2 linked regions of the Homo sapiens genome follow. The protein of the gene in region 1 interacts with the protein of each later gene in a biochemical or structural test. Each region holds a gene or a part of one and is shown on either strand. Other genes may lie near its edges.

Evidence for each region. The genes of interacting proteins can lie anywhere in the genome.
Region 2: the proteins of SELL (region 1) and SELPLG form a complex in vitro, tested with the Homo sapiens proteins (one large-scale study listed by IntAct).

The regions. Positions count from the first base shown.
Region 1 is NC_000001.11:169,701,549-169,705,204, reverse strand, and holds part of SELL (L-selectin precursor), read left to right. Parts: intron 1-451; coding exon 452-637; intron 638-1,764; coding exon 1,765-1,950; intron 1,951-3,516; coding exon 3,517-3,645; intron 3,646-3,656. UniProt on the Homo sapiens protein: Calcium-dependent lectin that mediates cell adhesion by binding to glycoproteins on neighboring cells. Mediates the adherence of lymphocytes to endothelial cells of high endothelial venules in peripheral lymph nodes.
Region 2 is NC_000012.12:108,621,318-108,623,973, reverse strand, and holds the end of SELPLG (P-selectin glycoprotein ligand 1 isoform 2 precursor), read left to right. Parts: coding exon 1-905; 3' UTR 906-2,079; downstream 2,080-2,656. UniProt on the Homo sapiens protein: A SLe(x)-type proteoglycan, which through high affinity, calcium-dependent interactions with E-, P- and L-selectins, mediates rapid rolling of leukocytes over vascular surfaces during the initial steps in inflammation.

The DNA of each region.
Region 1 (3,656 bases):
TGCAAAGAAGGCTTATTATGGAGACCCACTCTTTCTCTGAACATCTTGCTCCCAATACTCTAGTAGACTCAGGGGCTCTGATGTGATAGTTATTTCCCGACTAAGCTGGTCATTCCCAGTTACACCTATTTGGCTTTAAGGATTCTCACTACAGATAATGCTGAAGATAATAATATGAAGACTAGCTAATGTTTACTTAGAATTTCTGATGAGTCAGGCTTTGTTCTAAGGTCCTTGACTTATGCTAATTGAATTACATTTAGTTTCCATATCAATTTGATAAAGATAACACAATTTCATTATTCCTCTTATATAGATGAAGAAACTGAAGTTGGAGGGTTCAAGTAACCTTGTTTAAAGGCACATGGTTATCAAGTGGCAGGGCTAGGATTCAAATCCAGGCGTCAGTTCCTCTTAACTCTTCCCCATACTGTTTCTTTCCCTATTGAAGTGATTCAGTGTGAGCCTTTGGAGGCCCCAGAGCTGGGTACCATGGACTGTACTCACCCTTTGGGAAACTTCAGCTTCAGCTCACAGTGTGCCTTCAGCTGCTCTGAAGGAACAAACTTAACTGGGATTGAAGAAACCACCTGTGGACCATTTGGAAACTGGTCATCTCCAGAACCAACCTGTCAAGGTGAGTAACTTCAGACTAGAGGTTTTGTCATGCAATCCTGGGCTTACAGTCAGAACATTCAGTAGAAGTTTGCTGAGAAGTCAAACTTAGGAGCCTAATTTAACCTAACTTTGTTTAACCTACTGTGATGTTTCTCAAAGGACTTATTCTAACTAAATTTTTTTGAAAAACCTCCCAAACAAAAAGTAAAAACCAAATACCCCTGAAGCCATCTCCCAGTGTGTAACATGACTTATAGCAATACAGCATGGTTATACTGTGTTTTTTATTTTTCTCATTGCCATTGCATAAATAATGTCTTGTTGAACCTCAGTTACATTTTGGTTCTTCTCCTCTCAATAACACCTGTTTTATGTGGTGTCCTACTTAATACCAACCAGTTTCCTTCCCAGGGTAGTGGAGGTCTTTCTTGGTTGTTTTATTTGGCTTATTCTTAAAATCACTTTTACTTTTCCTCATGCATAAACTTTTAGGAGAATAACAACTGAAAAACAAAAACACAATCTCTTGATCTTTTCAAGTTTGAAATAAGGTAGGTTTTTTTTTTTTTTTCATTTTTAACTGCCAACCTTATCTCCATATGGGAGAAAACCAATGTCATCTGAACTTACGAAGTTTTGGTTAACTTTTCTACAAGTATGCTCCTGATGCATTAGTTTAAGTAGTTTAATTCTTAGAAGTGCTATCAAAATCCCTTATTGAAATTATAAAACTGTCAACCCACCTACTGGAATTTACGGAAGTTGGACTTGCTTCAGTGAATTGGGATGTTTTTCAAAATGCTTGGGTAGATATCAGAACAGATGAAACGGCAGAGATTCTCTGAGAATATCCCATAAGAGCCCTTGATGCAGAGGCCATATGGCATGGTACTTCCAGCAGAAGGGGAGGGTCACCTTAGCTAGGGCAGCAGCCTGGAGTAGCTACTCCTCTCCCCACAGCTTTCAATGCTTCCTTGCCTTCATCTCTCATTCACCACCCACCATCATTCTCAAGAAAATAAAGCCTGGAAGCAATATCACAAGTAATGTAGTCAGGCAGCTTTGGCTAAAAATCCTTTGCTCAAGGGAGGGTCTCTACTCAGAAATACTGTTTTGTCTTTTTTTTTTTTTTCTTTTTCATTGAAGTGATTCAGTGTGAGCCTCTATCAGCACCAGATTTGGGGATCATGAACTGTAGCCATCCCCTGGCCAGCTTCAGCTTTACCTCTGCATGTACCTTCATCTGCTCAGAAGGAACTGAGTTAATTGGGAAGAAGAAAACCATTTGTGAATCATCTGGAATCTGGTCAAATCCTAGTCCAATATGTCAAAGTGAGTAAGTTTGTCCTGGAAAACTGAAATCTTAACGATGGAGCTGATGGATGAGCAGATATGAGGAAAGACATACATAAACATTTACATGTTGTTTTGCTAAGAATATGTGGCCTAGAAATAAATTTGTATGCTTAACTCACTGTAAAATCTTTGGCTGGTCTTTCCTCCTCCTTTAATGACAATCATTTCCTTTTTTTGTTCTCACCTCTTGCCATCTTAACTCCTAAAATCTGAACTCACTGATTTACTTTTTACCCATTCTTCTATTCCACTACAATCTAACATCTCTGTTAGCCCATTGAAATGCCTGTAAAAGGTCACTAATGACCACCTACTTCCCCAAATAATGGATACTCCTGAATCATCACTAAGCTAATGCCTCCAAAATCTATCTGTATATGAGAAGAATCATGTCTTGTTCATCTTTGTATACCCTCCACCTGACACAGTGCCTGGCAATAGGTGCTAAAGCAAATGCATGTTAAGCTAGCATGTGAAAGAATAGCTACCTGTGTCTGCTCCTGAGACTATCTGCATGGATGACAAAAGTCTTTAAATGGTAGGATCTACAGAAGCTGTCAGAAATGCTGATCTCTGTGTGCTGCGTGCCCAGGGCCAGGGAGTAGAGTGGATGAGCAGAGAGAGGCAGGGAGGCCTTTAGCAGAGGACTGTGTATTAGGCCTATCAGAGACATTTCCCTTTAAGGCCTAGCTAGTGTTCATTTCCTCCTCATCTTCATCAAGCCAACAGGTACCTTCTGTCTGGAGCTCCTGGGAACTTGAGCCTTCTCTCAATCATATATTTGGGTGTGGGGATCAAATCACCTTGAAAAGGTTCATCAAAGTAATGGGAAGAACTAAGGATAGAATCAGACCCTCTGCCAATATGTAAAAAAGTAGATTCCTTCAAATGTTAGTATCAGGAGACAGATTTTTTTTTATACCAGTATTTTCAAATAGAGGCTCCCAAATGAACTTAGTTTACACTTACAAGAGTATCTCTAAACATGCCCTTTTACTTATTCGTGAAGGAAGTAGAGGGAAGTGGTAACTACTGCATTGGAAAGAAATTAGTGCAGGTCCTTGGCATGTAAAAATCAAGTGCTTATTTTTGCACAACTGCTTTAAAGTAAAAGCATTAATGATTTCCTTTGACTGGTGAATTATCCAGTTCAGATCATTGGCTTTTATTTTTCCTGAAGTTGTATTAGGCTTTTAGCTCTTCTCTGTGTTTCAGAGTTCCAGTCATTGAACAAGTCCATGGAGCTAAATACAACGATGACCATTCTTGCCAACATTTTTAGGTGCATTTTCAGGAACTCTATGAACCACAAATCTGGGCATTGAGATTCTGTAGGCATTAGACTAGCAAGGCTGGTCCAGTCTTTGCCTATGCTGTAGACTCATCAGGGGCCTTCCCATGCCAGTTTCCTCATCTGTCAAATGGCATCAAATGGGCTACTACTGGGAGATGTAAGGAGGAAAAAAGTCAAATATCATGAGATAGACTAAGGAAATAATGCTGGTGGTCTCATGCTATGTGCCTTACTGATTTCTCTTTCAGAATTGGACAAAAGTTTCTCAATGATTAAGGAGGGTGATTATAACCCCCTCTTCATTCCAGTGGCAGTCATGGTTACTGCATTCTCTGGGTTGGCATTTATCATTTGGCTGGCAAGGAGATTAAAAAAAGGTATGTGAGTT
Region 2 (2,656 bases), on another chromosome or scaffold:
TGTCCACGGATTCAGCAGCTATGGAGATACAGACCACTCAACCAGCAGCCACGGAGGCACAGACCACTCAACCAGTGCCCACGGAGGCACAGACCACTCCACTGGCAGCCACAGAGGCACAGACAACTCGACTGACGGCCACGGAGGCACAGACCACTCCACTGGCAGCCACAGAGGCACAGACCACTCCACCAGCAGCCACGGAAGCACAGACCACTCAACCCACAGGCCTGGAGGCACAGACCACTGCACCAGCAGCCATGGAGGCACAGACCACTGCACCAGCAGCCATGGAAGCACAGACCACTCCACCAGCAGCCATGGAGGCACAGACCACTCAAACCACAGCCATGGAGGCACAGACCACTGCACCAGAAGCCACGGAGGCACAGACCACTCAACCCACAGCCACGGAGGCACAGACCACTCCACTGGCAGCCATGGAGGCCCTGTCCACAGAACCCAGTGCCACAGAGGCCCTGTCCATGGAACCTACTACCAAAAGAGGTCTGTTCATACCCTTTTCTGTGTCCTCTGTTACTCACAAGGGCATTCCCATGGCAGCCAGCAATTTGTCCGTCAACTACCCAGTGGGGGCCCCAGACCACATCTCTGTGAAGCAGTGCCTGCTGGCCATCCTAATCTTGGCGCTGGTGGCCACTATCTTCTTCGTGTGCACTGTGGTGCTGGCGGTCCGCCTCTCCCGCAAGGGCCACATGTACCCCGTGCGTAATTACTCCCCCACCGAGATGGTCTGCATCTCATCCCTGTTGCCTGATGGGGGTGAGGGGCCCTCTGCCACAGCCAATGGGGGCCTGTCCAAGGCCAAGAGCCCGGGCCTGACGCCAGAGCCCAGGGAGGACCGTGAGGGGGATGACCTCACCCTGCACAGCTTCCTCCCTTAGCTCACTCTGCCATCTGTTTTGGCAAGACCCCACCTCCACGGGCTCTCCTGGGCCACCCCTGAGTGCCCAGACCCCATTCCACAGCTCTGGGCTTCCTCGGAGACCCCTGGGGATGGGGATCTTCAGGGAAGGAACTCTGGCCACCCAAACAGGACAAGAGCAGCCTGGGGCCAAGCAGACGGGCAAGTGGAGCCACCTCTTTCCTCCCTCCGCGGATGAAGCCCAGCCACATTTCAGCCGAGGTCCAAGGCAGGAGGCCATTTACTTGAGACAGATTCTCTCCTTTTTCCTGTCCCCCATCTTCTCTGGGTCCCTCTAACATCTCCCATGGCTCTCCCCGCTTCTCCTGGTCACTGGAGTCTCCTCCCCATGTACCCAAGGAAGATGGAGCTCCCCCATCCCACACGCACTGCACTGCCATTGTCTTTTGGTTGCCATGGTCACCAAACAGGAAGTGGACATTCTAAGGGAGGAGTACTGAAGAGTGACGGACTTCTGAGGCTGTTTCCTGCTGCTCCTCTGACTTGGGGCAGCTTGGGTCTTCTTGGGCACCTCTCTGGGAAAACCCAGGGTGAGGTTCAGCCTGTGAGGGCTGGGATGGGTTTCGTGGGCCCAAGGGCAGACCTTTCTTTGGGACTGTGTGGACCAAGGAGCTTCCATCTAGTGACAAGTGACCCCCAGCTATCGCCTCTTGCCTTCCCCTGTGGCCACTTTCCAGGGTGGACTCTGTCTTGTTCACTGCAGTATCCCAACTGCAGGTCCAGTGCAGGCAATAAATATGTGATGGACAAACGATAGCGGAATCCTTCAAGGTTTCAAGGCTGTCTCCTTCAGGCAGCCTTCCCGGAATTCTCCATCCCTCAGTGCAGGATGGGGGCTGGTCCTCAGCTGTCTGCCCTCAGCCCCTGGCCCCCCAGGAAGCCTCTTTCATGGGCTGTTAGGTTGACTTCAGTTTTGCCTCTTGGACAACAGGGGGTCTTGTACATCCTTGGGTGACCAGGAAAAGTTCAGGCTATGGGGGGCCAAAGGGAGGGCTGCCCCTTCCCCACCAGTGACCACTTTATTCCACTTCCTCCATTACCCAGTTTTGGCCCACAGAGTTTGGTCCCCCCCAAACCTCGGACCAATATCCCTCTAAACATCAATCTATCCTCCTGTTAAAGAAAAAAAAAAATGGGACTGGGAGCAGTGGCTCATGCCTGTAATCCCAGCACTTTGGGAGGCCGAGGCAGGTACATCACCTGAGGTCAGGAGTTCAAGACTAGCCTGGCCAACATAGTGAAACCCTGTCTCTACTAAAAATACAAAGATTAGTCAGGTGTGGTGGCACATGCCTGTAGTCCCAGCTACTGGGGAGGCTGAGGCAGGAGAATTGCTTGAACCCGGGAAGCGGAGGGAGGTTGCAGTGAGCTGAGATCACGCTACTGCACTCCAGCCTGGGTGACAGAGTAAGACTCCGTCTCAAAAAAAAAAAAAAAGATTCAATGACCCTTGTTAAAGCATGGTAAGGAAGACTTTGTTCAAGGGGAGTGGGACTCTCTCAATCACTGCAGGGACTGCAGCTATGGGATTTTGCAGTGGGGGCATTTGGGCTCAACTATGAGTACAGCAGGGGCAAGTGGGAGCTGATAGCCAGGGAACAGGGTTGGATATCTGCAGCTGGAAAATTACCAAGAGGAAACATCAGGGGAAGGGGAATTCTGGCTAAACTGACTGCTGGGGATGGGTTCTCGGTCATTTTCTACACTGAC